Regions from separate parts of the Homo sapiens genome. Here region 2 is linked to region 1. The links come from fine-mapping of genetic effects on gene expression. A gene starts in region 1. The other region holds a variant in brackets. All regions are shown on one strand. Distances are from middle to middle.

What was found. PIP is the estimated chance that this variant, and not a neighbour inherited with it, causes the effect.
Region 2: its variant is fine-mapped to the expression of STIMATE in whole blood (TOPMed, PIP 0.91).

What each region holds. Positions count from the first base shown.
Region 1 is chr3:52,889,860-52,905,331 of GRCh38, reverse strand. It overlaps STIMATE (STIM activating enhancer), which reads left to right and starts at 7,784. Exons shown (of 8, transcript NM_198563.5): 1 at 7,784-8,041. The coding sequence starts at 7,882. STIMATE-MUSTN1 (STIMATE-MUSTN1 readthrough) reads left to right here and starts at 7,784. Exons shown (of 10, transcript NM_001198974.3): 1 at 7,784-8,041. The coding sequence starts at 7,882. SFMBT1 (Scm like with four mbt domains 1) reads left to right here. Exons shown (of 21, transcript NM_016329.4): 21 at 56-1,760. The coding sequence ends at 196. RefSeq lists a silencer at 7,522-8,231.
Region 2 is chr3:52,838,805-52,854,276 of GRCh38, reverse strand. STIMATE-MUSTN1 (STIMATE-MUSTN1 readthrough) reads left to right here. Exons shown (of 10, transcript NM_001198974.3): 3 at 1,579-1,674; 4 at 4,364-4,485; 5 at 9,336-9,448; 6 at 10,479-10,556; 7 at 11,317-11,466; 8 at 13,667-13,777. It overlaps STIMATE (STIM activating enhancer), which reads left to right. Exons shown (of 8, transcript NM_198563.5): 3 at 1,579-1,674; 4 at 4,364-4,485; 5 at 9,336-9,448; 6 at 10,479-10,556; 7 at 11,317-11,466; 8 at 13,667-15,472. The coding sequence ends at 13,783. It overlaps MIR8064 (microRNA 8064), which reads left to right and starts at 7,725; the gene lies at 7,725-7,814. RefSeq lists enhancers at 9,292-9,792, 13,973-14,474. The variant C/T (reference allele first, on the strand shown) is at 3,952.

The DNA.
Region 1 (15,472 bases):
TCAAGCTGCCTTTCATGTGCACATCACAGATAATTTGTCTTTTATGCTTTAACAGGAAATTGATGGGCAGGCCCTGTTGCTCCTTACCCTTCCCACTGTTCAAGAATGCATGGACTTAAAATTGGGCCCTGCCATCAAACTTTGCCATCACATAGAGAGGATCAAGTTTGCTTTTTATGAGCAGTTTGCCAACTGAGAAGGACAACCAAAGTGAGCTGGATCTTTGAAGCACAAATGCAGCAAATCCTTCACCCTGCTTTATAAGTGGAGCTGGAATAGTCCTGGGGCTCTGGGGCCTGCAGGTATCAGCTTGCTCTCTTTGCACTTTCGGGGAAGGAGGACTCACAGTGAGGAAGCAAAAACTGTGCACAGAAGTGGATCACCTGCTGGTGGAAATGTGGACATCTCTTGTTCAGCAGATGGCAGTTTTTAAAAAATAAAGGTTGTGAGGAAAAGACTTATATAAGAAGAAAAGCATTTCCAGTGGTGTGGCCTGAAAACAAAGAATAACCTAGGCTGCTGGAAAGCACCCTTTTGGTTGTTTTCATTCTGTTCCCTCCCATTGTAGATTGAACTTTGTTCTCTGCTTTCTTTTTCTTGGAAAGAGAGGACTTAGCTTTAAGTCAGCACTGATTTGGGACTGTTCCTAAGGCATATCAGTGCTTCATTGTCATTGTGTTTTTAAACTTTTTAAAATTAAAACAGTTCATTTTGGGGATGATTATGTGGCTCTAGGGTTTTGAATGTATAGTCACACTTTGATCATTTTAAAATCGATTCTTAGGAGTTCCTTTGTTTACTACCTCTGTTGATAATTGAGCTTACAGCCATGTATGAGGTTTTTTGTATGATGCCATTTTTAAGCTACATAAACACTAAAATTATGACAGAATTTGGAGGGGGGGAAACTGTTTGCTTTCTTAAAAACATTATATGGGGCACTTACACCAGTTCCTTAACTGACCTGATCTGAGAACTCTACTGTTACTGTTCTCCATCTTGACCCAGCCGAGGCTGCCTGTGTTAAGTAACATCACCAAGACTGTTAGTATTTCTGTTTAATTGCCCTCTTCCTATTCATTCTCAGAGGGACTTCAGTGACTTTTATTTTGTGTTTACTTTTCTCTAGAGTTGTTTGTCTACCTCTGTTTCATTTCTAAGGTCTTTACTTTGGGTGAAAATCAGTAAGTGTTCCATGGACCCACAGCGAAGCCCATTTGTCCTTCTTTCCAGGTGTCTCCAGTGTAGAAGCACAGCACAGAAAACATGTTTTGGAGGGTAACGCAGAGCATGGAGTTTCTGTTAGCAGTGTCCTCAGTGGCAGGATAAATACTGAGATGTGGTTAAGGATTCTGGAAACCTCTTTGCCTAGCCACACTTAGACTTTTTTCAGCTAATCCTTTAAATTGAATATAATCTTTAGTCCGAGGATTCCCATTTAAACAACTCAGTATTCTTTTAAGTGTGTCTTTTAGCCCAGCTCAAGTTAACATGAAACTCCAGGTGAATTTTCACTTACTATTCCATTGCTAGCTATTATAGAATAATAGCGTTTGCTGCACTATTCTAGTCATGAGGAGTGAGGAAAAACATACATAGGTTGTCTCCCTTAAATGGTTTGCTTTGCTGAATTTTTTTTATCCTAATCACCTGCAAATTTATAACCCAATCATTCTTCCTCAAGATTTGAAAATGTTTTAATCCTGCAAACTGGGTGAATTCTAAACAGCTCTACAAATATAAGGAAATATTACAGCAAATTTTAACTGATTGTGATTTTTTTTTCCCATTCCCCACCACCCCAACCTATTTTTGTGGACATTGATGAATAATCTGGAGCCTCTCTTCATTGGGTAATTCATAAACCAACTTAACTCAAGCCCTGCAACTAAATCATACATTAAATCATTAACTCTTCACTTAGGTTCCTACCAGATCTATCTGGGAAGAAGCTTCATTTAAGTAAAAATTAGTATGTTTGAAACTTAGAGATCCAGTTTTTAAAAATTTAAATCTGTGTCTGTGGAAGACAAGGATATATAGGGAATGCTAGGGAATAATTAGCATTAAACATTAAGCTTTTGGTGGGTAGTGGTGGTAATCTTGCTTAATGAAATTTCCTGAGAGTTCAGTCAAGGTACTAAGGAAAAGAGGGCCCCTTGAGGAAGAATAATGGAACAGAATTTCTGGAATTAATGTTTAGGGCCTCGTGTTATTATCTTATTTAGGAAAGTGAAATATATTTCCTATAAGAGGGAATTTACCAAACACAAGAACAATGAATGCTTTATTTTGTCTCTCTTTTGACTTCTCCAGAAACCACAGAATTAAGAATCATCTCCCTTCACAGGTGAGGGGATGAAGGCGCTGAAGGGCAAAACATACAGCCCTACGTAGTCTCTGATCTAGGTAGAGTCAGAGCCCAACAGGCTTGTTTATACCATGATTATTCAGGCTCAGCCCGTTCCTAGAGAAAGGCTGACTCTAAATGGTCAAGTAAGTTGAGTTTCCCTTAATATTTCTTGCATTCTCCTATTAAGGCATAGTTTATTAGGCAATTGCATAAAGAATTATATCCCCCAGCGCCGACTCCCGTATATTATGTAAGCAAGGATAATTGGGAATTTAGCACAGGGCACTTTTTTAACTTAAAGTTTGGACTTAATTTACCTCACAAAGCTGCTGGGACTGGGCTAGATAACAATGATGTTCTGGTTACTGTGATGCTGAAACAGATTTCAAGCCAGATAATAGCTCACCATGTTGGGGTAAAATGTTGGTATGTTGCACACAGGTGCAAGAACTTTGTTTTTTAGAGAGACCAACTTCTTAAATGTGTAACAGTCACATTGTGAAGGGACTGCATTTGTCTGGATTTCACCTGCAGCTGGGCCCACAGCCTGCCTGAGGTCAGAAAATTTTTCATGACCCATTTTTTACCCTGAATTGACAAGTTTAGAAAACAGGTTAATGGACTACTTCATCCTCCTGGACCTTGAAAAGCTGGCTGACCAATATTAGACTACTACTGCTCAATTAGTGTGCTAGGGAAACCTTTTTGCTGCACATGCAGATTTTTCTGTGACATTTTGACTAGATTTTGAGGGCTTCTGGGGACTATGCTGTTTTCCTTTGTACACCATCTTCATCCTTCTCATTTGAAGCAGAGTTGAAGTGGCTAATGCAGGGAATGCATTTATGGAAGCTTGCACGCTATCTGCCTTTGTTCAGCAATGCAGGTGGCTCCTAGCATTTATCTATGTTATAGATATGTGAGGTCAGGGAAGGGTACTTACTAACCTCTGGAAAAGATGAGCTTCTTGATAAATATTTATTGACTTATGGTAGAAGCAAACATAGAAAACTAGTTCAGAACTTAGCCTTAATATGCCTTTTCTCCTGGAAGTAAAATATTCTCACTGTGAGAGAGAAGACATTGGACCTTAGCTTCCAGAGGACCTGGATACACTTTACTTGCTCTCTAGTACCAATTCAGTCACGAATGTGGTACCTGAATACAATTTAAAAGCTTTAGGAGGCCTTAGGTAGGGTGGGACTCAGAATCATTTCCCTCTCTCAAGCCAAAAAGTGTTTCTGAGGGACACATAGAATATCAGGCAATCTAGATGGGAACATTTGGGAAAACTATCACAGGCAATTATATTTACTTGGCACCTATATCACCAAAGATTGTTCTATTTGAGACACCATTTACTGGTTTAATTGATCAACAGTGGAACACACCCTGGATTTGAACTCTGATCCTGTATATTGAGGATGTGCCGTGTGTGCACACACCAGTTCAGAAGTGTTCTGTGTTATCAGTAGGAAATCTGTTGGTCTTATGAAGTTAAATGAGTAGAAGGCATCACTACAAAAAATGAAGTACAAATCTTGGTGGGGACCAGATGCCCCCTTTGCAAGCTTGGATTTCCTTGCTCCTGGGTCCACTGTAAGCAACCATATGTTTGTCATGGTGCTGACTCAGAAATCGTAGGACAGAGAGCCTCCTGCAAAACCAAAAAGAAATGTTACTTTCCTGCGATTATAATTCTTCCTTGACTTTGTTCACTTTAGATGTTTTACTAGTGAGTTTTGATGACTCCCACCCCTTATGTGAGAATGTGCATACTTTGGAAACTTGAATTTATCCAAACAAGCTACCTATGACTTAGAGTTTGGGCATAAGTTTTAAATTCAATGCTCAGTCGAACTGGATCTGGTTCCAGGCCCACTCCAAGGGTGGTTTCAGGGGTGTTTTTTCAGTACTTGTCCCAGACCACACAGGTAGCCTTGTTTCTGAGGGCAGCTTTATGGGGAGGTGTAGAAGGTGGTGGGCAGCAAATGCACTGCAGAGTCATTTTCTTGGGTATGGTGTTTAAGAAGCCTGAGATTTTCACAAGAACCAGCAAAACCAGGAGTGGAGAGTTGGGGAGATAGAGAAGTAGGCCTAAAACTCCCTCTTCTTGAGTCTTTTTTGACTTAATACACCATTGGGTCTGTCCTGGTGCTATGGCCTATCACAAAGGACTGTTTTAAGAGAGAAGCAAGCCACAGCCTTGCCAGATAAGTCTCCAACACCAGCAGAAAAGCACGGACCCTGATCTGTGGGAGGCAAGGGTCTCCCATTATTTCTGGAGGCAAATGGTGCCTTCTAGTGAAATGGTGCCACCATTTGCTGATGGGGGTGCCTGTTCTCAGGATGTGTGGAAACTCAGGCCTGAGGGTTTCTACATGGTTTATTCAATCTAACTGCATACCTAGCTTGGCAGAATGGAGGTGGACAAAAGTGCTGAAAGGATGAGGGTAGGCTTTTAGGGCAAATCAAGTCACAAAGCAGATGATTGAGGGAGGTTACAAAGCTTAGGCAGAGTTAAAGTTGGGCAGTCCATTAGCTCCTTTTGCAAGAATCTCTGGAGACGGTAGTTTGAATGTTTCCCTTGAGATTTCAAGTGCTCATTTCTTTTCCCCTCCCTTCCTTTCTTCCTTTTTTTTTTTTTTTTTTTTTTCATTGAATATTCTCTGAAGACAATCAGAGGCCTGCCAGGGAGGGACTCCTGGCTGGTTCCAGCACTGTCCTTAGGCCTCTTTTTAATACTAACTTGTTGGAACTGATGCACTTTGTTTAATGTATTTTACCTTTTTTTTTTAAAGCTGCTCATTTAGAACAAAATCAAATGCTTATTGCATTGTATCCTTCCTGCTTGCTGTTTTTCCTCTTAATTTCAAAAGTTATGCATTAAAGATAAAAGTACACTTAAGAAGTATGCACAAGAATACCTATTAAAATAACTACCATCAAGTTTGATGGTATAACTTCAAAGGATTAAAAAAAACTATTTTGGATTAATATTTTGCGTGTTTTTTTTGTAAATATGATTGTATATAAACTGGTGGTACGTTATGACAGTTTTAAGTGGTTGTGAGAAAACTAAAGAGAACAGGTCTTAAGCTATGTTTAACCTTAACTTTGTGCTGATTTGACAACAAGGAAGGCATTTTGGCCAGAGTAAATTTTTTAAAACTCTTTCCAGCGGGACCTCAGAGAATCATTTCCAAATAGATGAGAAGTTCCTTCCTACTTTAATAAAACTCCGGAATTCTTCCCCCTCTCTTGCTGTCTCATCCTTTACCTTCTGGATTTAGGTGCTTTTTAATTCCAGTTCAGGAAAGATAGGAAGAGTAGAATTTCCCCACAGCAACCTTGCTCCTGACATTGGGGATTCCGCCCCTGATCTCTGAAGACTGCTTCTTGTTTGTTCCTCTGTGAGCCTTAAGGATTCCTCCACAGCTGGATGTGCAGAACAATTCTTTGTCAAAAACATCACTTTTCAGCTCTATGTCCAATTTTCCTTGAGCTGTCTGTGTCTTCAAGCAATCAATAGTCTCCTTATGCCCAACCACAATCTATTCTGCTTTAAGACGTAGCCTCTTGTTTGGTTCTCTCTAAACATGTACTGTTAACTGTTGAGCATCCTCATAAGATCCCTCTTAGACTAAAAGACAGTCATGCAATTTTAATTTTCCCTTATCCATTTATTTTTTTAATCTGATTTTCTGTATTTGCCCACGGCCAGTACTTGTGGAGAGTTTAAAATTTTATAAATTAAAATTCCATTTAAATTAAGCATTTTGTCGCATGTTCTCTGTACCAGGCACCATACTGAATTTGAATTGAAGGGTAAATAAAAATAATTCCTGCCCTCAGGAGGCTCACACTTAGCTGTGGGAGAGAGACATGTGTACAGCTGTCAAATTTAGCAGTCTGAAAAGTTTTGGTGGAACAGTACACACTAGGTAATGTGGGAGCAAGAGGGAGAGGGAGGTCAGAAAGGCTTTGACACATGAGGAGCAGTTCATGGAGCAGGGAAAAGGGAATGGCATCCATGCAGCTAGAATGCTACATAAAGGCACAGAGGTGTGAAAATGTAAGAGAAGGCTGGAGAATTGCATTTTTATTCTCTAATCAGGTTAATATTCCTGTTCACCAAGAAAGCTTTTAGCTAGCATATAACCCTCTTAGGTAATTGGAATTTGGGGGGCTATTTAATAGGAAACTTTTTCCTAGAGATGATATTTACCGTTGAAAACACGTAGCTCAGTATCAACTGGACTTACACCATATGTTCACTGACATTCTGCAGCAGGAAGGTCAGCGGCTCTAGAGCACCAACAAGAAGGTATCCAGAGAGAGCCCAGATTGGGCTGGGAGAATGGGTGAGTGTCAACTGGACTTACACCATGTGTTCACTGACATTCTGCAGCAGGAAGGTCAGCGGCTCTAGAGCACCAACAAGAAGGTATCCAGAGAGAGCCCAGATTGGGCTGGGAGAATGGGTGAGTGTCAACTGGACTTACACCATGTGTTCACTGACATTCTGCAGCAGGAAGGTCAGCGGCTCTAGAGCACCAACAAGAAGGTATCCAGAGAGAGCCCAGATTGGGCTGGGAGAATGGGTGAGAGAATGGGGACTCAGGGTCTTGTTAAAGGCAGAGCACAGGTTCTGAGAAGTTGGAAAGGGTTAGATGGGAGTGTGTGTGTGCAGGGGGATGTTGGAGCCTGGAAAATACCAACCATTTGTCTTTTACACTCTAAAGGTAGTTGTGCTCCCCAAGTGAATAAGGTGGGACATGTGCACGTCAGGTTTTCAGTGTGAAACCTGGTATATTTCCAAATGAAAGTGATTGGATTCAGGTGACCATTTAAATTATGTCTATGAAAAAAGAAAATAGACTTGGGGCCTTGATAAGCCTTTAGCTAGGGAAGTAGGAAAAAGACTCAAATGTCTGGGTTGGAGGGAAGACTCCTGTACTCAGTCTCAGATTGTTTTCCTTATTCACTTGCTTCAGAATAATCCAGGCTGCAAACTATTGGGACCCACCCCAGAACTACTGAATCACGATCTCTGAGGGTGGAATTCAGGAATGATGATAATTTCTCCAGGATATAGGGATTTTCCTTAGAGGGAAAAATAATTTGACCACAGGCCGTCCCAGCTCCTACCTCCGGACCTGGAGCTCGTGATTCCCAGGCTCTCATTCCGGTCTGCGGTGGCCGGCTCACCTGGCCTGTCTACCTGCGGGCGTGGCGGGGTTGGAGAGGGGAGCGGGACCCGCGACCCCGCCCCGTGGCCCGGCCGGAGCCCCGCCCCTCGGGGGCGGGTGGGGAGAGCTGCCGCGGCCGAGGCCCGCCCCAACCTTGGCTGCGCCAATCAGGCACTGCGATCTCAGACGTCGGGTTACGCGCGGCGCGGAGTCGGCGGCCGGGCGGAGGTACCGGCTCAGGCTTGGGATCCCGGCTGCGGGTTTGGCGGCGCTGCGCCGGCAGGCAGCGAGGCCGGGCGGGCCCTGGGCCCTCGCGCCCCTCCCGCGAGGCCTGTCATGCAGGGCCCCGCCGGGAACGCGAGCCGGGGACTGCCAGGCGGGCCGCCCTCCACAGTCGCGTCCGGGGCGGGCCGCTGCGAGAGCGGCGCGCTCATGCACAGCTTCGGCATCTTCCTGCAGGGGCTGCTCGGCGTCGTGGCCTTCAGCACGTTAATGCGTGAGTCTGGGACCCCCCGACCCTCCGGAGGCCCTGCGCGGCAGCCGCGGCCCGGCCCCCCTGGGGGCCCCTCCTGCGCGGAGAGTTCAGGCCTTGGGACCCGAATTGCTCCTCCCCCGCAAACCCAGGCTGGGTATTCCTGCACTAGGGGTAGCCCGAGCCCCTCACCTACTCGCTGTGGCCTCCAGACAGGAGTGACCCTTCCCCTTTCCACCTTAAACGTCTGTCTTTTGAGACGCCAGTCTAAAACTCGCCTACCTCCCACCTTACCATCTCGAATTGTTACCCCACTTCCCAGCCTGGAATCATGACCCCCAAGGGTGACATCCCCTTGTCCGCCCCTTCTCAGGGGCTCTTCGTGCTTAGAACCCACATCCCTCAATCCCCAGTGCGATGCTGAGCTCTTTTCTGCCCCTTCACTCTTCAAGGATCTGCCTTCTCCGTTCACATTTAAATCCTGCTACTTTGCATCCCTCTCAACACCTGGAGTGTTAGGGCCATGCCTTCCGTTTCCCAGTACCCGCCTCCCTCTCCGTGGCCCTTCTTCCTCAGCTTTAGTTTCCCTTTTGTCAGGGTAGGACCCACCCAGTCTGCCTTCTTCCCCAGATCCCCTTCCTCTCGTTTCTTCCGGAACAGGCCCACCTGTTCCATCTCTGTCCCAAGCTTTCCTAATAAGCCGCATCTATAGCTTCCCCTGGCTGTTCCCTTTCCACTTTTATTCTTTATATTTTAAGTTTCCTTTTCCATTAAACTTGGGCACCTTAGTGGCTGAATAGAGAAGGAAGCCCCCACCCTGTTCTCATGTGTGCTGATGGGGGGTGGGGGGGGGCTTCTGTTTTTCATCGTGTGCATCCTTCCCTTATTAAAGTAACAAGAAGTTTTGCTCGACATGTAAGCCTAGGAGTGCCCTTGTGACTGCGTTTTAGGGGGAAGGAAAGGTTATAACTATCTGTGCAGAGTCATTAATTCCAAAAATGACTTGTTCTCAAAACTTCCCCACTGTGCTTGTGTGGACAGAGTGGAGAGTTCCTGCAGAAAGTATGCTTTGGGGTACTCAGGAGGGATCTTGCAGCTGTGTGCCTTTGTCTTGTGGGGTCCAGTTGCTGGAGTGGCCACCTTGCTTGTTTATAACTTGGGGTTTCTTTGAGTGAATTCTCTCAGGCTTTAAGTAACCCTGAAGAGGCTCTGATCATGGATACCGCGTTCTTCTGGTGGCCTGTCCTTGATAAGTCTTATAAGTGCCCAACTGTCTATGTTTGCCACTTTTTCTTTCCTTTTTAGTCCCAACTTGCCTTGCTTTTTCTCTGCTAAACAAATACCCACTTGTTCCCACAGTAATAATTTGTGACAACTTAGCCAAAATCCGCTGCTGACTTGGGCGCATGTACTGTACGTGTGTGTTTTCAAGACATGGTGAGTGGATCTTCATACCCCTCCTACTTCTCTGTCCTCCAGACAGCCTTCCTTTCTCTCTGAAGGAAGTGTAGGTTAAATTTTTCTTTTGCTCCCTAACCTGAGGTTTCTTAGCCTAGCTCTGGCTGTTTCCATAGGTTTGATTGATGCTGATGGCCCGGCTTGTCCCCTAGGGTTTGACACTTGTGATTCAGAGAAGGAAATGTGATGATGACAGGGCAGAGTTGCTCACAGCTGAGAAGTGTATCGGGTTGAATGTGTTCTGAGTGGAGTCTTCAGGGACATATTCACTTCTTTACTTAATCTTCAGCGTGAGCACATGTGCAAATCCCACTGTGGTTGGTACTTTCTGTGTGCAGAGATTGAACTAGAAAGCAGTCTCTTGTTCACTGTGAGGCTTGACGTGGACGGAGCTTGTGGAAATGGCTGGTGGGTCCTGGGGTGATGTGGGTAGGAGTGATGGGGAGAAGAGCTGGAAAGGCTAGAGCTATGTCTGCCCTGACACAGAAATGGAGGTGAGAGCAAGAGCCTCCTCCCCCTACCTAGAAGCAGACAGAGCAGGCCAGGGCAATGGTACTCTGGGAGCTGGACAAGAAGAAGCCCACTGACTGGGATGCAGTCAGGGTGGGGCCCTTCTTATCTCTCAGATTTCTTGGTCCTGTTGAAATAGAACTGCGAGGCTTTTCCTTCTTGAACTACTGGGAAGAGGAAGAAATCTCTAAGGTGGAAGAGGAACGAGATCAAGGTAGCCTTAAGGAAGTACATCTGCGAGCCATTTGGCTTTGTCCTGGGCTATTAGTCCTCCGTCCTTCTCAGTCTGGCGGAGCTGCCAGGAGGGGCATCTGTTGAAGGCCAGGCTCCCCTGACGAGGGTCCCCCTCGCAGCCCTGAGGGAGGGAAGTCTTAGTGTGTGTTAAGGTGAGGCCACTCCATCCTTCCTCAGTTCTGTTATCTTCAAACATTTTAAATACCAACCAGTCTGTTCTGAGCAGTTTAAACAGCCGTTGTCCTTTGAGGGGCTGTTTTTGAGATCACAGTCTTTTCCCTTCTGAGTACCCGTGGCCCTCGAGGCAATGGGCTCACTGCCTGTCTTCTGGAACGCTTCCCCAGTCCTGATGGCCAACACTATTGTTTCCTGTTGGACCAGCTCTGACTGTAGAATGAACCCATTTCTCTGCAGACAAGCTGTGAGGTAGTTTTCCTTACTTCACCTCCCTGATTTCAGTGACCCCTCAGACCACTGTCTTTATGTTCCTTTTTCTATCCAGAAAAATCACTTTTTTCTCCACTTACACGTTGCCTTGTTTTTGTTTGTTTGTTTCTTTGTTTTTAATCTGGAGAGGTTTGTCCTGAAGGAAGATTACTTATATATATTAATGTCTCTGGGGAGGATTCTGGTTCTGCAAGAATTTCTCATTCTGGTGCTTTGATAGACTTCTTGCCTTACTATGTAGGGTTTATAGACCCTCTTGGTCCAGGCAGTTGAGAATGTATATGCCAGGTCATACATGGTAGCCCATTATTCAAGCTGCATAAACATGCAGACTGTTACAGGCACCACCCACACACATGTCCCAGTGTCAGCACTGCCTTGTTGAGTTGGCGGGCTTCCTAGAGGCTCCAGCTAAGGTACCCTGTGTACGCAAGGAAAGATGAACATACTCAGAGACAAGCTTATGAAGATACTTTCCACTTAGAGTTTTCTGAAGTGTCTGCTAGGTATCTGCATAGAAAGAAACGCTTTAAACGAGGGGGCTTTGCCAAGCAATTCCTCGTTTTGGTGGTTTTAAGCAATTCCTCGTTTTGGTGGTTTTGTCTATAGTCTGTGACTTGACAAAGTTGCTCAGCTAGGGTCTCAGCAGAACAGAGCTAAGCAGTCCTAGAGCTCAGCAAACTGTTCCAGTGCAGGGTAGCCAACCAGCTGTCAGCCAAAGGTCGTGTTGGCCAGTGTGTGTGTTGGCATTTGGGGGTGTTTGCTCTCAGGACATGTGAATGCAAAGCAAACTCAAGCCTCCCTCACCGTGCACAGTCAGGGTTCTGGGCTGAAGTGTAGACAGAATTGGTTTTTAATAAAACAAGCATTTTGAGAGCTTGGATAAATCTGCCTGCCTATTTTTGTTATAGACATGGGGCCTAGCCAGCTGGGAGAAATGTGTCCATGTTTTACAAAAACACTGCTAACATTGAGAAGTGATAACTTTTTTCCTGCAATCCAAAGTAAAAATCACAAACCAGTCCACTCAGCTTTGATATCTTAAATGAGAGTTTCTGGGGTTTTCTCCGTGGTAAACCGGCCTCCCTGTGTGCTCTGTGTGAACAGGCTTGTGTTGGCACAACCTTCCCTACGATCACCTCTCCCCACCCCATCCTGGTTTTTATCTCTAAAAATGTCAAACGTAGAAAACATGAAAAATAATACACTGAACATCTGTCTGCCCTCTACCTAGATTTAGCAGTTGTTCACATTTTGTCACATTTGCTTTACCTCTTTATGCTTTTTTTTTTTTGGCTGAGCCATTTGAAGGTAAATTGTGACCAGCATCACACTTTACTGCTAAATACTTCAGCTAAGTCTCCCCAAAATAAGGACAATCTCCCACATAACCACAATTTCATCATCATACTTAAGAGAATTAATAATAACTCCATGATATCATCTCATATCCAGTCCATAGTCACATTTCCCCAAATGTCACAAGTCTTTTATAGCTGGAGTTTTTAAAAGCTAAGATCCAATCAAGGTCCACACGTTGTGTCTGGTTACGTTTTCAGTCACTTTCGTTTCTAGAAGAACCTCCTCCTACACATACATGCACACTTTTTTTTTTTTTTCAATGTTTCTGGCTTTTTGAAGAGTTCTGGCTGCTTGTTGTGTGGAGTGCCCCACATTCTGGAGTTGTCTGGGTGTTTCCTTGTGGTGTTTGAATTGTTTCACTGGCCCCTGTTTTCCTGAGTTTGGTCTGGAGCAGTTATTAGATTCAGATACCCAGTTTTATGGCAAGAACACGCCATAAGCGGCGCTGTATGTTTCATGTACATTCCACCAGGAGGCATGTGACATCACGCTGCCCCACTATTAGTGTTAATAAGGTTGATGACTTGGTGATGGTGGATGGAAGACCTCTCAGTCTCTCCCTCGTAAAGGTACATCTTCCCCTGGGCAATTAATAAGGGATCTCTGCAGTGATAATACTTTGAGATCATGTGAATACTCTGTTTCCCAGTAGCCTTTCACCCAGTGATCACCTCCTCCTGGTAAAATAACAGAATACAGTGACAGCTGAATTGGAGCTGGAGCTCACGAGTGAAGGCGCCTGTCTTTGGGTCTGGAACCCAGCACAAACTCAATCAGTGTCGCTGTCCTTTCCTCCTTCTGGAGTGCCAGCATGGGCAAAGGAAGAACGCCCCTTTTTTCATGCCAAGCTGGTGTTGTGGCCAATGTTAGCATACTGGCTGGCTCAGAGCTTTCATTTTTAGAAAGTTTTCAGGTTTTCTAAATGTTTATTTATTTGGTAGCATTTATCCATAATGGCAATCTGCTGCTTGATTTATCATGTAACTTCATTAATTTCGAATAAAATCAGGACAACAGGAAGTTGTCTGAATTAGGGGACAATCTGAGTTGTAGAATAACTTACCAAATGCATTTTTTTTAAACTTTTGAATACCTCTGTTGGCCACATGTTGCCCTGTTGGGGCCTCTCATGCTTCTGCTGCTTTAATATCTGTTTAAAGTCTTTTGCAGTTAGTATATTTGCACAAACATGAAGATTTGTTGAAGGGGTTTTACAAGTGGTTAAAAATAACAGGATCCCTGGCTCTGGATCCAGCCTGACCCAGCATCCATGTCTGCTTCGCTCTGCCATGTGGTGCCCCTGAGCAACTTCTGCATTTCTCAAAGCTTCAGTTTTCTCCCCAGTAACATGTGGTAATAATCTGTCTTTTCTGGGGCTATGGAGATGAGAAAGAATGTGTTTGAGGAAGCTGGGTTGGTGTCAGGCACATGTTAGGCCCTCCTTGGGGGTGTGTCTTCATCCTTGTTATTACATTGTATTCATGAGTTGGGCTGAAAAATGTTTCACAAGTGCTTAAGTAACTTATTTTCTGAATTAGGTTAAACATTCCCCTTTCTTTCTTGTTTGTACAATGTCTTTACCTTTAGCCCTCTTCACAGAGTGCATGGCAGTGAAAAAAAAAAGAAAGAAAGAAAAGCACCTTTAGCCCAGCCAGCACAGTGAGTGTGAATCCAGATTAGCATGCGCCAAAACAAGGTGGCTTTCGTGGCCAAAATAATCTTCCTTGACCTAATCTTTCTTGTGTTTTTACCGGCAGGGCCCTCATGTGGGCTCTGAGAGAGAGGGCAGTGGGTGCCTGGGGCTGCCCCACTTCCAGGTGATGAACCTGCTTCAAGTCGCTGGCTTTTCTTTGCCCAGGGCCCATGGTAGTAGGTGGTGGCGCTGGCCCCTGGAGCCGGCCTCTTTTCTGCAGCCTACTCTTCACTGAGTTCCCAGCATGCCAACCCCCCTCACAGGAACCCTGTACAGAAGCGGTCGGTGAGCAGGTGAAGTGCCTTGTACAAGGGCTCCTGGTTAGTAAGTGCAGAACTGAAATGTAAGCCGGGTCCCTGGGACCCCAGACACCCTGAGCCACTTCCTCTGTGCCTGCCGGCTTTTTCCACCCCTCTTTCCACACAGGTTCACTTTCTGATTACTCCGTATCTGTGGCTACTTCACCTCATTTTTTTTCTATCTGAACAATTCTGATTTTCTTTCTTGATAATTATTTTTATTTAATTTTATTTAAAGCATTATTGTTTTTTGACTGTTGATAACATTAAAAATATAAATTTGAAATGACTCATCAATCATTTCATGCCTACATGAGTCACACGCTAGGTCTGCTTTTCTGGGCCTTTGTGAAGATTTTCCTTGCCTGGGCAGAGGGTGGTGATTCTACCCCAAGGCTGAGGTCTAGCATCTGAGGCGAAGGCACCCCCGCCCTACCCCAGAGCAGCAGAAGCAGGCAGCACGGAGTCCCTTTACTCGCTGGTGAGGAAGGGTCTGCAGGGCTCTGGGTGGCTTCAGGTTACCTGCTGAGTTTCACAGAGTTCATTTCCCTGTTGGTTGCCATATGACTATAAGGAAGGTCATTAATAATCTTGAGGTTTACCCAGAAGAATTATCCTTTTCCTTGTGTATGCATAGAAGCAGTTGGTGAGTCTCTTTTAGATTACTCCACTGCTAGGAAAGCTATCCATTGAATCCAGAGTTTTTCAGCCTGGCACTGTTGGTACTTTGGATGAGATAATTCTTTCTTGTGGGAGGCTCTCCTGTGCATTGCAAGGCATTTAACAGCATCCCCAGCCTGCCTCTACCCACTAAATGCCAGTAGAATCTCTCATTGTGACAACCAAAAATGTCTCCCGACATTGCCAACTGCCCCCTGGGGGGCCAAATCGCCCCTATTTAAGAACCACTGCATCGGTTCAGTTTGTGAATTTCTCAGCAAACTCATATTTGCTCTAGAAGAACAGATTAGAAGGTCAGTGTGTTGTTTCCAAAGTATAAGAACAGTGGACTATCAGGATCTCTTAAGTACTTTGGTGCCAAGCCCGCTATTGGATGTTTCCTTGACGAAGAGCTGAGACTGGTCCCCAGTCCTTGAGGGGCTCACAGCTGGAACAGGCTGTAGGAAGGCAGGCAGGCAATTCCAGTATAGCGTGAAGAGGATTGTAGAAGCCTGAACACACTGGAGAGGGGGAATGAGGGGTTCCGCCTGGGGACTCGAGGAAGTGTCCCTGAGGAAGCTCCACCTGAGCACCAGGCTAAGGGCTCTCGACATGGAGGGGGTGGTAAGAGCAAAGGTTCACGTAGAAGAGACCAGCGCTGGAGAGGGTAGAGGCAGAGGGTCTCAGAACAAAGAGGCAGTGTATTCAGAGGCTTTCCAGAGAGCCTTCCTTATTCCATTTCAGGCCTCTTTTACGGGTGCATTTAAAGAGGATGCGTTAAATTATTGGGTG
Region 2 (15,472 bases), 51 kb after region 1:
AAGACTTCCTTCATTAGAGCAAAAGGCTCCTGTCTTCCGGGAAATTCCATGAGGTTTAGGTGCTCGTATCAGGACCAAGGCCAGAGACCAAATACTAGAACAAAAACTCCTCTTAGCACCTGTGTTACTCAGGAGATTACAAGTGTTTTAGGAGCTCTGTGTCAGAAACCAGGACAGAGACCAAATACATATATTTCTTAAATAGACTTTGATATATACATCAAGCATATATTTATTTCACAGATTATGATCCTGCAGTCACAATTTTTCCTTCGTGAAATGGTGGTAAAGCTTCAGAAGTAGGTTCTAAAGACAAAACTCCAAAATAATACATCACTTGGAAGGATACAGTCAGCTCTTCAAGACAGCACTGTGTCCACAAGAAGCTGCCTGTTTTAGGCTGCCTTGGGCTTCTACATTTCCTAACAAAATAGCCATTTTATCCTTCAGAGGAAACGTCAGTAATCACTGTGATAAAATTATTAAGCGTGTACTTGTTCTTAAACGTGTTGCTGGCGAATTTGATAATTCTTTTTATTTTCCCCCCGTTGATTTTTCTCAAACCCTGTTAACTTTAGAATGTGTGACTCCCACCTCAGGGCTGGGGCAGGACCTGGTGGGAGACCTAGCTTTGGGGCTCTCTTGAGTCTTACATACGTTGTCCTTTGGTAACTCCTCCTTTGCAGTGAGTCTAGGGAATGATTTTCCAGCCACCGTCGCTGGGTTGGTCTGGATAATCTCTGCAGTCCTGAGACCCTGCCCAGCTGGGCGGCTGTGAGAGACAGCCATGACCAAGAGGTGCCTCGACCACAGAGGAGAATGGCTACCTGGTGCTGGTGGTGGAGGACATACTGAAGGCACACGCTGTCTCCACCATGCTCCTGTCACATGGGTCGGGGTTAGCTCCTCTCAGAGATTAACACCCTTGTTTTTTCTTTTTTGAAATGCTTACCATCTAGTCCAGGGGCTGGCACACTACAGCCCTCAGGCCCGGTGTGTATGATTGGAATAGCTGTGTCTATGACTGCATCATTCTCTAGCGGCAGGGCTGAGGAATTGAGACAGAGATCATATGGCGCACAAAACCTCAAATATTTATTCTTTGGTCCTTTACAGAAAAAATTTGCCTACCCTGATCTAGCCCATTGTTTAAATGGCAGCAGCTGAAATTTCTTTAGGGATCCAGCTGCAGTACTGGATTTGTGCACGTCTTGTTAATTTCACACATAATTTAGCTCATTGTGAGTGAAGTTGAATGGGAGCTCTTTAAAATAGAGGCACCTTGGGCTTCATCACAAAGCAGCGATTGAGCATTTTATTTTGAAGTAAGAAAAAAATTTAAAACGTATTTTAAATATCAATCCTTGACCTTTTAGGGTTTTCAAAGGCAGTGTTATTGAAGGCTTTGAAAGGTGGCTGAGATGCCAAGCCTGAGTTAGTGCTCAAGGCCCCAGGAAGAGATAACCAGTGATTGGAAGGTTGGGGTGGCTTTCTTCCTGTTTCAGTCTTCTCGTTTTCCTCAAATTGGATATTGCGCTCCTGTCAGGCTAATAACCAGTGCTGGTTTATTTTGTACAGGTTTTTAGACACTTCCAAACAAGCCATAGGAATGCTGTTCATCCACTTTGCAAATGTATACCTAGCAGATCTCACTGAAGAGGACCCTTGTTCACTGTAAGTGTTCCCTATTTGAGTGCAAACATCAGCTGCCCCTCCATTGAAAATATAGGCTGGCCTTGCTTTCTGCTGCTGGTCCTGCTCCCTCTGGCTTGGGGAGAGGGTGCTCCCCTTTTCCTCTGTGCTCCTCTGAGAGACCATCCTGTACATGCTGTCCTGGAGCTCACTTACACAGCTATCAGTTGGCTTGTAGGGCTTTGCGTGTTGACACTTTCCCCATGCACTGGCTTTCTGTTCATCAATCCAAGTTCTGTCCTTTGATTTTCTAGTGTCCTTATGTCTCCCAGTTTCCAAGCCGCCCCTGGCAAGGAAGGATAATGCCCTACAGGAGTGTCTCTGCTCTGGAACCAGGACACACCAGGGCTTCTCTGTGGCGTCAGCCATTCAGGGTCAAAACTGTTGTTGACCCTCATTGACCTCTTCCACCTTATCATTGCAATGTGCCTTCCATGCAGCCCCCAGAGCAATCCATCTGTGACCTCAATCCGGCCATGATATTCTGTCCTCCTTGCTGATGGCACCCACATAGTGCTTCTCTTAGCAGGTGGAGTGGCAGAGGAGGCTTGCCTACCTCATCCTGGCCCCATCTTCTGCCTCCCTTTGTCCTCATAGCAGCCTGCCATATATTAATGGAGACTTTGATCATCCCCATTTTACAGTGGTGGAACTGAGGCACAGAGAGGTTATATATACTGTAAGTTCACACCGCTCAGGAGTCATGGAGCCCAGCCAGTCTGGCTTCCAGGGCCCACATGATGCTTTGCTGTCTGTCAGAATCATCTGTGTTGAGGATGGAACATAGAACTTTCTCTCTTTATTCCCAAGGCATGGCACACAGTAGGCTTGTAAATGTTTGCTAAGTGAATGAATGAAAGTAAGGTCTGTATGTACATCACATGTCCTTGTTCTCGCAGGCGTGAGATGCTTTGGACACAAAGTATCTGAGAGCAGCATAGCCTCAGGCCAGAGGGAAATTGCCTTGGAAGCAGTTGCTGCTCCTGCCATCTCTGGTCTAAGAGTGACCCCTTGTGATTTTACAGAGGAAGGGCAGGCAGGAGAAATGCCCCCTCCCTCTTTTCACTGGTTTTCCTGCTGACCTACCCTAGCACAGGCTGCGCCCTCTGGCATCAGAGTGCTGTGTGCACATCACCAAAGCTCCAGCCCAGGATAGGAGGCTGTGAGACTACACAAAATGTCTCAAGCCTCAGCAACTGGAAAGCTCACCACACCTGGAGTGTGTGGTGTCCTGCAGCTTACCTGCAAGGATTTCAGAGCCACATGGTATCGTAGAGGGTCAGTACTGGACCCAGTGCCCTTGTCTCCCACTCTGTCTACCATGGAGAGCTGGAGCTTGTGGTCAGCAGTGCTCAGCTGGATCTGGGTACAAGGCCCTCAAGAGAGGGTGAGTGGAAAAGGGCCTTTCTTTGGTGAGAGAAAAAATTTTGTGTCGGATGGAAACAGACCGTACAAGAACACAGTTCATGTGGTATGCCCTTCAGAGCCTCCTCCTCTCACTCCCCCAGTTATCTTGCCTTTTCCCATGGGGAGTAAAGCTCGCTCTTTAAAGTGTAGGCCGGGCACGGTGGCTCAGGCCTGTAATCCCAACACTTTGGGAGGCCAGGGTGGGCATATCCCTTGAGGCCGGGAGTTCAAGATCAGCCTGGCCAACATGATGAAACCCTGTCTCTACTAAAAATACAAAAATTAGCTGTGTGTGGTGGTGGGTGCCTGTAATCCCAGCTACTTGGGAGGCTGAGGCAGGAGAATCACTTGAACCCAGGAGGCGGAAGCTGCAGTGAGCTGATTGCACCGCTGCACTCCAGCATGGGCAATAGAGGGAGACTCCATCTCAAAAAAAGAAAAAAACAGTGTAAAAATATTACTTATGCTTGACTGCAGATGGGGATGGGCGAAGGCCATGTTGCCCTGTCCTCTTTGTCTGCGAAACCCGAGAGGCTGTTTTCCTGAACCTCTCTGGTGCAGCAGCACTGTTCTGGGCCTCCTGGGCTGGACTGTCAGGGAGTGAGCAGAATCATTGCCTAGGTGTTTCTGTCATCAGTTAAGTTCTGTTTCCTGTTGATTTCCCTGGCTGCTTCCAGGTACTCTGTCTTCCATTGAACCTTCGCCTGGCAGAAGCACTGGCAGGTTTTTGTTTTGTTTTGTTTTTTTGAGACAGAGTCTTGCTGTGTCACCACGCTGGAGTGCAGTGGTGCAATCTCAGCTCACTGCAACCTCCACCTCCCGGGTTCAAGTGATTCCCCTGCCTCAGCCCCC[C/T]GAGTAGCTGGGACTACAGGTGCGCGCCACCACGCCCAGCTAATTTTTTTGTATTTTCAGTAGAGACAGGTTTCACCGTGTTAGCCAGGGTGGTGTCTATCTCCTGACCTCGTGATCCACCCGCCTCGGCCTCCCAAAGTGCTGGGATTAGAGGCGTGAGCCACCGCGCGCAGCCAGCACTGGCAGTTTTAAAGTGTCTTTGTCCCTCACTCACCTCCCTCAGGTGGTCGCACTCCTGATGAGCTTCAGCACATGGTAGTGACAGCTACACTGGCACATGAGGGCTCCCAGCCCCCAGAATGGGCCCAAACAAATGCTGGGTCCATCCGCTTCCCTCAGGCCACCCTGCATCAGCCATGACCTCTGGCCCCGTGGCTTCTGCCGTGACCATGCATGTGCCCTGTCCTCACAGGTACCTCATCAACTTCCTCCTGGACGCCACTGTGGGCATGCTGCTCATCTACGTGGGGGTGCGCGCCGTCAGCGTCCTGGTAGAGTGGCAGCAGTGGGAGTCCCTGCGCTTCGGCGAATATGGTAATATGCTGTGGATGCCGGACAGGGCGTGAGGGAACTGCTGGAGGTCTCTGCTCCTTGCCCCATGCGGCCCACCAGGCAAACAGATCCAGAAATGGCTGGGGAGCTGCCATTGTCTTCTCTGTGTGGTAGAGGGGGCTGTTCTGGGTTTGAGCACACCCTCCTGTGGGTGTGGGTGCCTGCTTTACCACCAAGGCCCTCACCTTATGGCAGGGAAGGTGGCAGGAGGCAGGAGACACTAGACACAGAGAGAGGGCTGAATGTCTGCTCCTTCTAATGGAAGACACCAGCAGTCCCACACACAGGCCCGCAGGGACTCTTCGTTCTGCCAAGCTTCCTGTAGAGCTCACATCACCTGCCTACCAGGTTAAAGAGATGGGGCAGCTCTCATTTTTCGAAGGTGTTCAATAACGAGGTGGCAAGCCCTGCCCCTCTTTCTGCTGCACATCTGTGCTTGTCCTGTTGCTAGGCCATTCCACACGGCTGGTACTGGAGGGCACCTTCCTCAGGCCCTCACTGCCCTCTGAGGTTTCAGGACAGAGTTAGGGGTAACATCAGCTCTCTCCCACCCTCACAGCTGGCCCCAGGTGTCTGCAGACAGAAGCTCCTCTTCCAGGTGGATCAGTATCAGTGGAGCCTTTGCCTTGAGAGGGCCACAGAGGACAAGAGGGAGGGAGAGCGGATGGAATTCGGGATCCCCACTCTCCTGTCCTGGTCATGCCTCCCAAAGAGCTCATGGCTGTGGGCTCAAGGGCCACTCACTTCTAGATGGCTGAAGATTCACAAGGCACTGACAGTTTAAAAGGGGAGCCAATTCATGGAGCTGGCTATGAGTACCTTGGATATTTCCAGAAATGTTAAGTAATTGTTTGTCTCCGTTGAGGGGAGATGAGCTCAGGGCAGGGCTTTTCTTAGCCCCGTACTTGATGCCTGATGAGTCACTGACTTAAGATAGTGTCCAACACACAGCTTGTGCCTCCTATGGCTCCAGGGAAGGCTTCTGAGAAGCTGCGAGTCATTGAGTCCTCAGCTGCAGAACAGAAATGGACCACAGTCGGGGGACCAGCACAGCATCATCGTCATTTATAGAATGGGCACCCAAAGGAGTTAAGTGACGCGCAAAGCTCACCCAGCCAGTGCATGGCTATGGGAGCCTGGGCCTGCTGCACCAGGATACCTAAACCCTCCCACCACCCCCACAAACAGTGCTCACAACTACTTTGCAGTTGAGATCCCTTCTAGAAGGTGTGGCTCCCAGCTCTACTATAGCTGACCAGTGCTAAGGTGAATCCACTGGTCACCACTAGTCTGTCAGGTGCCACTCAGTGACCTGGGAGTGAAGATCAGGTCTGGTTCGGATACATCAAGCATTAACGCTACCAGCTGTTCCCTCACATTTTGTCTTCATCCCCAAGGGTGGATGGAAAGGAAGAAGGCAGTGATATTGTTTCAGCCTCTTTCTCAATCTCTTGGCCTGCCTCAGCCCCTGCCCCTGGGTCATCCCACCACTGCCTTTGGGAGCCAGAGTCTTCAAGCCAGAATGTCTCCAAATAAAGCTGTGGGGACCATCCTGAGTCTTCCCCAGGCTGAGGAAGGATAGCTTGTCTGCTCAGTTACCTGTTGTTTTCTATTTCCATCAATTTCTGTTGTTTTCTATTGCTACTGTAACAGATTTCCACAAACTTCATGGCACAAATTGAAACAACACAAGTTGATTATCTTTTTTTGTTCAGAAGTCTGTCATGGGTCTCACTGGGCTAAAGTCCCAGTGTCAATGGGGCTGGCTTCTGGAGCCTCTGGGAAGATTGTTTTCTCGCCCTTTCCAGCCTCTAGAGTCTGCCTGTAAGCCTTGGCTCGCGGCCCCTCCTTCCGTCGTCCAAGCCAACAAGAGTCGCTGGGTTTATCCCACATCGAGTTGCCCTGACTTCCTGCAGCCTTCTACTTTAAAGTGTCCTTGTGATTACATTGGCCCCACCTGGACACTCAGAACACTCTCCCTGTCTTAAAGTCAGCTGACTAGCAGCCTTAATTCCATTTGCAGCCTCAATTCCCCTTTGCTATGTGATGCTACACACTCACAGGTTCCAGGGATTTGGATGTAGGCAACTGTGTGGGGCTGTTATTCCACCTCCCACACCTGTTATCCTGCCCATCCATTTGAGGAAGAGGTACCACAGCTCTCTTCTCATGTAAATGAAGAAGAGGGGCTTATTTTTCTAGGATGTGTCTTTTGTTCCTAGAAGAGAAGGCCAAGAGTTTGCTGATGAGAATGCGGGACTCAGGGAAATAAGCCACACAGCCCCGGCGGTTGAGACCAGATCCAGGTGACGCATGGTGTCTGCACTCTGATTACCAGGCCACTCTTTCCCATGTGGAAGCCCTGACATCTGGGTCACGGTGCTTCATGGGTCTTGCTGCCCATCCCTGGCCAAACTCTCCCTTTTGAAAGCCTCTCGCCACAGATGTGTTCCCTCCTTTTGGCCCCTATTGCTGTGACTTCTACTGAGGAAATAATTAAACCCAAACAAAACACCCACATGCCTGAGGTTGTTCATTGCAGTAAAAAGCAAGACACACAAGGTCCAGGTGCAGTGGCTCACACCTGTCATTCCCAGCACTTTGGGAGGCTTAAGCGGGGAGGATCGCTTGAGCCCAGGAGCTTAAGACCAGCCTTGGAAACAAAGCAAGATCCCGTCTCTACAAAAAAAAAAATTTTTTTTAATTAGCCAGGCACATGACATGCATTCTTAGTCCCAGGTACTTGGGAGGCTGAGGCAGGAGGATCACTCAAGCCTAGGAGTTTGAGGATACAATAAGCCGTGTTCATGCCCCTGCACTCTAGTCTGAATGACAGAGTGAGACCCCATCTCTAAGAAAACAATAACAGCAATGACAAAGCAGGACATGCAACACTGCCTGGCATGTCTGTCCTTTAAAGAGGAGACTGTGGGGGACATCTGAAAGACTCGCAAGTGAAACAGGAATCAGGAAACACAGCAGCCACGTGTGCTTCTCCCAACGGTGGCTGCGTGAGATCTGGGTTCCCAGAGGAAATGGTGTGCCAGACGGGGTCACAGGTGCTTTTTCTCTTTTCTCACGTTTCTGAACTTTCTTATTTTAGCATCTAAAGAGGCAGCTGTAGCTAAGTTGTGTAGCAGAAACCTAGAACACTGGGGCAATGTGAGGCGTATGGGAGGAAAAGCATTTTCCTCCTTGTCAGTCACTTAAAACTGAAGAGCAGATGGAGTGAGCACACTGAGCGAGCGGACATCCTTCCATAGTAAATAAGCGGTGCCGCGCGCTCCGCTGGCTCCCAAACACTCCAGTCCTCACAGAGAGATTTCCTAGTGGCGCTTTCTGTCCAACTGTCCTCAAACCTACTTAATTACTTAATGGTTTCTCACAAATAAGTTCATCTGTTGTTTTGAGAACTGTTCTCGATAAGGTTAGGTGACTTACCGAAAGGAAAAGGATTGCAAAACTCATTAACAACCTAGCAAGGAGGGATTATGCTTATGAAATGGGTTTTTTGGCTCAAATGTCTCCTATCCCTTAAGTGAAAGTAGAAAGGAAGACCTCAGAAGAGGCGACTGATGTGTTTCTGCCACACTTCTCCCAGGGTTTTCCAGAAAAGGGAATGGCCTGGTGTTTTGTCCATTGCAGCTGCATAAAGTCATTCCCTTGTGTACAGCTGACAGGCTTGGGCAGGGCATGGGCCTCCAGCATGGGTGCCCAAACAGGGATTGCTGCAGAAACAATAAAGCCAAGTGAGAAGCTGGAGATATCTCTTTGGACCAAATTATCTTCTCATAGCCTGGATTACGGCCTTTACCCCCCAGCCTCCCGCCCCCCCGCCACCCCCAAAATGCTACCCTGTACCCCCTCTTCTGGCCAGCTGTGGTAAGGCAGCTCTGGCAGAACTTCCAGGGTGAGCCCCAGGCAACCTTCCCACATCCCACTCTCCCCTGGGTCTCCCACTTTGGGGAGGCCTATGTGGCTCCCAGGAGCCACCCTAGGGTTCTTCATATCACAGGATCATTCCCTGGAGGGGCTGGTCTTCTCTCCGTTCAAAATGTCCTGGAGGCATTCCAAGGCCTGCACATCCTCCAGCTTGTACTACTAGGTCCCTCGGTTTCTCAAGCATGGTGACTGAAGGGGTCCCAGATGGACCTTTGTCACAGCCCTGGGCCCCGGCCCATCCCTCCCACCTCCTTGCCCCAAGGACTTCTCTCTTCACTTCCTTGTCCCTGGCCAAGGTGTTTGGGGTGACCCATGCTGGACAGGTAGAGTCCAAATTCCTCCAGAGTCACGTTTCTGCTCTCAAGAGGCTGAGGTATCAGGGATGGCCCGGGGAGTTGGGTAAGGGATGGGAGGTGGGGAGGTGGGAGACAAACAAAGCGACTGGGTCCTGCTTCATCATCCACAAACATCAGTCCACTCATGGACAGAGAAGGGAGGGGCAGCCCCGCTGTCACTGGAAAAATCAACAACGGATAAGAATAGCAGTCTTGCTTCATACAGCTTCTGCTGCCAGCCGGCAGAAAGAACAGCTTTTCTGAGCTCCAGCAATGAGCACTTCCTAACTTTAGTGCTTTTTAATCCTATCTTAGAATCTCTTAAAAGAAAGGCCATTTTAGTATCTTCAAATAAGGAATTCTCTGATTTTATTTAAAATACTGCATTTGTCTGTTAAGGATGAGGTAATCCTTTGGACTTTTGGGGGGGCTCATTAAGTACCTTTAGAGCTTTAGAGCCAGTGTTCTGGGGTGCGTGTGGGGGAGTGGGGTGGGGACATCATCTCACTCAGATGCCTGGGCCCCATGTGACTAAGCACCCGCCTGTCCCTGCAGGAGACCCTCTGCAGTGTGGAGCCTGGGTCGGGCAGTGCGCTCTTTACATCGTGATCATGATTTTTGAAAAGTCTGTCGTCTTCATCGTCCTCCTAATACTTCAGTGGAAAAAGGTTTGCTTCGTCCCTGCATGAGCAGCTCCTTGCCACGCTGAGCAAGCAGCACTTCCTCCCCATCACCCACATACGCCAACTCTAGGAAAACCAAACTTGTTTTAACTCTATGAATGTGTCCTGCATTTGGTCTGATGTGGCAACTACTCCAAAGAGCTTGTCAATTCTTAGCATCCATCCACTTTAAATGTCTGTTCTAGATGAAGCCTTGGGATGTATAAAACTAATGAAATACAGTCCCTGCCCTCGGCTTGCTACCATCTGATGGTGGTTTTTAGGCCTTGCGACAATACATGTTTCTACATCGGCAAACATCCTGTCACACACCTCTCTTGGCTGGTAGTTTAACTGAGCCATGTGGTGCCACGGGCAGCTTCCACAGTCTGTGACCTTCAGTGTGCCGATGCCCTGGCCAGCCCACGGGCTCCCCAACCGTGGCTTCCGCCCTCTGACCCCAGTTCTGTGTAGATAAACCCCCACTCCTCATCCCCGAATGCCCACATGAGACCAGCCAGAAGCTTTGAGAACAAGTGGCTCAGCTTGGCCTCCTTTGGGTTTTATTTGTGTTTGGATTTTATTTAAGAAAATAAGCCAAGGCTTTTCAGTGCTGTTGTCTTTTAGGGGTGGTTGAGGTGTGGGATTTCTGTTAGAAAGTGGTCTGGGGCCTCATTGCTGGTGTCTATAATGAGCATCCACTGTGTTCACCCCTCCAGCCCCCTGAAGCCCACACTCCACTCTCCCGGTGGGCACTGCTTGCCTTGCCCTGGCTTGGTGGCTGTAAGCCCACTGCACTTTGCAAGTCCACACTGAGGGGAAAGCTGCCAAAGCACCAGATGCTTAATGTGGTCTCCAAGGGTTCCTTGTGGACAGTCTCATCTGGGAACCCTAGGCATGAGGTGCTGCTCCCATTGGGCTTTGGAGGAAGCGTCTTAAGCTAAGGCTCCCTCAGGGCCTATGGGTACCACCCACCCACCCCAGGCACACTCTCGGTGGCCTCTCCCTACCTCACTGAGTCTGCTTCTCTTTACAGGTGGCCCTGTTGAATCCCATTGAAAACCCAGACTTGAAGCTGGCCATCGTCATGCTGATCGTCCCCTTCTTTGTCAACGTCAGTGCCATGTTGCATTTTTATCCCGATTTGCTCCCTGTCTGGCAGGGTTCCTGTCCAAAGTTCTGAGTCTGACAGAAAGCTCACCTGTAGCCCTCAGGTCTTTTTGCGTGACCATTTGCCACCTCTCCCACCCCCAGACCTGGAAATGGCAGGATTACCCCCTCAAAAGGCAGGGCCCCATACCAGGGCTCCCGTCCAGGATGGAGGGGCCTGGGAGCTTTGTCTTGTCCTCCCTGCCGAGGGGCCTCCCACCAAGAAGCCCCACCCATGTGTAGCGCCAGCCTCTAGTTCAGGATTGTTCCAAACGTACCCATCGTTCATTCCTGACCACGGATCTTGAGAAACTCCCGAGCACAATGGCTCGAAGTTAAGAAACAGAAGTGGTGAGGGAAGCTGGGACAAACAGATGACAGCAGGGTGTGCCGGCCACCCACATGGAGTCTGTGGGGAGGGGCCTGGAACGCGTGTCCAGAGACCTTGCTTCCAGGCCCCAAACAGGCTGTTCCCCCTAGTTACCACAACAAAAACCCGTCAGGGCACGTTCCTTGCACACTCTGATCAGAAAACTGAACCCGAGGATGTGGAGACTGGGAATCTCTTTCTAAGCTTTGGGAGAGAGCAGGGTGATTGGATTGGGTTTTTCTTTCCATAGCTCTGGATCTTATAACCTGGAATGGGAGTGGGCGGATGGGGGCTGTTCGGCTTTGCTTTGAAAAATGGTTTATCCCAAAGTAACCTGCACTTTTCCTTCCCACAGGCTTTGATGTTTTGGGTAGTGGACAATTTCCTCATGAGAAAGGGGAAGACGAAAGCTAAGCTAGAAGAAAGGGGAGCCAACCAGGACTCGAGGAATGGGAGCAAGGTCCGCTACCGGAGGGCCGCATCCCACGAGGAGTCTGAGTCTGAGGTAGGGCCTCCCTGACTCTCCAAGGGCCCAAGCCGTCGTATCGCTGGCCCAAGGGGGTCTCTGGTCTCATGTCTGTGTATGTTCTTCCCTTGAGTGCAGAGTCACAGTGCGAGCCAGAGGGCAGGAGAAGAGGCTGAGCCAGAGATGAGCGAGGGGCAGACAGCTCTGTCCAGCCAGGACCCATTCCCACTGTCCCTTGGGCCTGCCTAGGGCAGGAGGGCAGAGCAGATGGGAGTGGCTTGCCTGCGACAGTTCCTCTGTCAGTGGAGATGACAGACAGGAGAGGGAAGTTCTGCCTTGTTTGGTGAGCTGGCAAGGACCGTCATGGGCCTAATGGTTGATCTTCAAGCATTAGGATATTTGAATCTCTGCCCAACACTAAAGAGCAAGGGAAGTGTTGGCTCAGACAGCTGGAAACTTCTAAAATATAGGGGTAGCCAGACCTTGCAGGAGGAAACTCATCCCCCCCTTATTTTCTGGTCTTCTGAGTTCAAGGGTTTGGACCTCAGGGAAGAACGGTGGCCATGAATAGCAGCCCTGAGGCCAGGATATGTGTTCTGGCGGCCCCGCAGCACTCACCCCACATCTGCGTGCAGGGCCAGCTCGTGGGAGGCATGGGAGGCCTAGGAAGTGTGCAGGTGGGAGCTGCAGAAAAGCTGAGACAAACGTCTTCCCCGGAGAGGCTGTCAGACACGTGGGTGAGGTGCAGGTGGACACATAAGTATTTCGTCATGACACCGTAATATGTTCTAAGATTGAGGCATAGGCAGAACCCAACGAGGGCCCTGGGACAGCCTGGAGGGAGTTTCAGAAGACGAATAGATAGTAGGACAGAGGGGAAGCCGTGTCTTCTCTAGGTGCTTGTCTCTAGAATCTGGCCAGCACCTGTCATATGAGAGCTTGGTGAACATTAGGTGAGTGGCAAACAGTGTTATGGGCAGAAGCAGCAGCTCATGAGCATTCACAGTCACATGGTTTGGTGTCTGGGCCATAGTGTGAAATGCACTGTGGCTTGTATTCTGGAGCATAGGACAGAAGGACAAGAAGTGAGGCACAGGCTGAGCTAGATCGGCAATGCCCTGTGATCCAGGCTGAGGCATTGGGATGTGCTCGTACAGGCGGTGAGGAGCAGTGGGAGTGTGGTGGTCGGGACCGAGACTAGAGGCAGGAAGCCCCGCAAGGGAACAGTGCAGGGAAGAGGAGGTGAGACTGCCTGCCCTGCCCTAGAATAGGAGTTCGTGTTTCCCTGCATAGGTGGGCTTTGGACCTCCTGATCCCAACCTAGGTGGTTCCAACCTTTCCCTGGTATTCAGAGGTCTAAGGAGCCAGGCAGGCGGGCAGCGGATGAGTGTGTTTGCCCCAGCTGCATGGCTGAGTCATTCCAGGGCCTTAGAACAGCAAAGTGCCGCTGTTTGTCTTCAGCAGTTACAGAGTTGGCTCAGAGCAGCCACGCTGAACTCCCCCTGCCCACAGATGCTTTCTCTTCCTTTTGAAAGGGGCTTTTCAGTCTGCCTCTGCAGTATTTAAGGCAGCTTCAACAACTGCATGTGTCATGGTTGAGCTTTTTTTAGCCAGGGTGACCTTAGGCTGCAGATCCCTGCTGAGTTTGTCCTGATGGAGGTCGGTTCCCCTGGAGGTGGACTGAGAAGTGGGGAGCATTAGCAGAGGAAGGGGGTCTGTCGACTCAGTGCTGGCTTCAGTAGCCCATGAGTGTCCTTGGAGTGAACATGGCCTGTGGAGGCTAGCACGTCTCATTGAGTACAGGGAGCTTCCCCTCACTCTCTTGTAAAGAAACATTAAGACTTGGCAAGGCATGGTGGCTCACGCCTGTAATCCCAGCACTTTGGGAGTCCGAAGCAGGTGGATTACTTGAGGTCAGCAGTTTGAGACAAGCCTGGCCAACATGGTGAAACCTCATGTCTACTAAAAGTAGCAAAAAAAAACAACGAACCAGGCATGGTGCCACGCACCTGTAATCAGCTACTCAGGAGACTGAGGCAGGAGAATCACTCGAACCCAGGAGGCAGAGGTTGCAGTGAGGCGAGATCGTGCCATTGCACTCTAGCCTGGGTGACAGGGTGAGACTCTGTCCAAAAAAAAAAAAAAAAAACATGAGACTTGAAGGGCCCAGGGTCCAGGGAGGGCAAATGAAGAAGGCCCTGCTGGGGGTGACTCAGGCCCTGCCTCTCTACTGCCTCAGATCCTGATCTCAGCGGATGATGAGATGGAGGAGTCCGACGTGGAGGAGGACCTCCGCAGACTGACCCCCCTCAAGCCTGTGAAGAAAAAGAAGCACCGCTTTGGGCTACCCGTATGACACATTCCCATGCTGGGGGTGACGGGAGGGCCCCGCCAGCCGCTGGTGTGCAGAGGTCATCCCGCAGCATCGTTCCTTACCCTCTCTCTGCCCTTCCTTTCTACCTCTGCTCCTCTTGCTGTCTCTGCCCGCTCTCGCCTGCCCCCAGACTACTGTGACTTAAAAAGAGGGAAGAGGAGCCAGCGCCCGAGGGGGCCACTGGCGGCTGGAGGTCCCCATTCAGTTGCACTACAAACACTGACCAAATATGCAAGGAAGGAGCTGTGTTTGTTTGTTGTCGTCCCAGACAGTGTTGTGAGGGACCTGAGGCCCTGCCCCGTGTCCGACCACCGAGTGGCAAGGTGGAAGGAAGCACAGGCACACAGACCGTGGGTGGGTCTCCTCACCGTGGCTGTGGGCAGTGCGAACACATAACACCCTCGGGCTAAAAGTGACTCGTTGACCAAGTTGGAACCGGAATGCTTTCTTACTCAAAATGGCTTTTGTAACTATTGATTTCTGAAGCTGGTTTTATGAGTTGTGACAGTGTTACCAGGTTGGGGGTATGTGTTTATTTCCTACAAAGTACTTACGGGACTAATGGGCAAAACAGAGATTTTTAAGTCTTCCGTATGCTGTTTGACTTTTATATTTTTAAGTTATATTTTCATACTATTGTATTTAAAAACTCTTTTTAGTCCCCAAAGAAATGGGTTTATTTGCCTTTCATGGGGTGTGGGCTGGCAGGAGGAAAAATCGGGAGTTTTTTATTTGGAATATTATTAGATGATGCCCTATGATAAGATGAGACAAATGATGGGGAGGGAAGGAGGATGGCCCTTCTCTAGAATCAGCAAACCCAATGGTTCTGTGAAGGTCAGACCCAAGCTTGGAGCAGCTGGTCTGGATGCAGATCCAGGAGCTGCAGAGTGTGGAACAGGAAAGGCTCTGCCCAGGGCCCATGAGCTCTAGCATTCCTGCTGGCAGATTAGAGATCTTAGTTAAATTTGACCAAGAAAGGAGCTTAGCTAAGAGGTCTTTGTTTCCAGAGGACCCAAGACTACCAGACTCCTGTGCAGTCTGCCTGTCTGCAGAGCCTCCAATCACGGTTTAAAGTGGTCTTGGCCTCCCAGCCCCCACTGCTGCAGCCTTCAGAGCCAGCCTCTGGACTCAGCGCCAGGAGCCTCCTCTCCTGCTGCCCTGGTACCTGTCATCCTAGTGTCACCTATTTGTTTTGCACAGCATTCTGGAGAACATGTGCCTCACAAAGTGATCCTGTTTTTCTCACCCTCCAAAGCTGAGGTGGCTAAGGGAGGCAGGGGTGAGAGAGCTCACTCTCTAAACCACAGGCAGGGCAAGGTGCTTCTAGGCCGTGTCCCCTCCCTGGGGAATGGTCACTACTCCTCAGCATGGCCACAGGCCCCTGTGGTTTTGGGAGTTTGCTGAGTGACTGTGGAATGGGCTGACCCCAGCCGTTTCCCTGCTGTGGAAACAGCAAGGTAGGGGCACTGCTTGGTGGTTTGTCAAGCTCAGAGGCAGCCACGGATGGTTAGGAACAGGAAGCCACACTGCTAAGGTGTGATGAGCTAGAAGGGAGACATCCTGGACTTCAAGTGAGACAAGTGCAGAGGAGGCCACTCCACTTAGGACCTTCCTTTTAGACCTGCATGAGCACGTGTTTCACTTAAGCACATTGGGTCCGAATTGGGC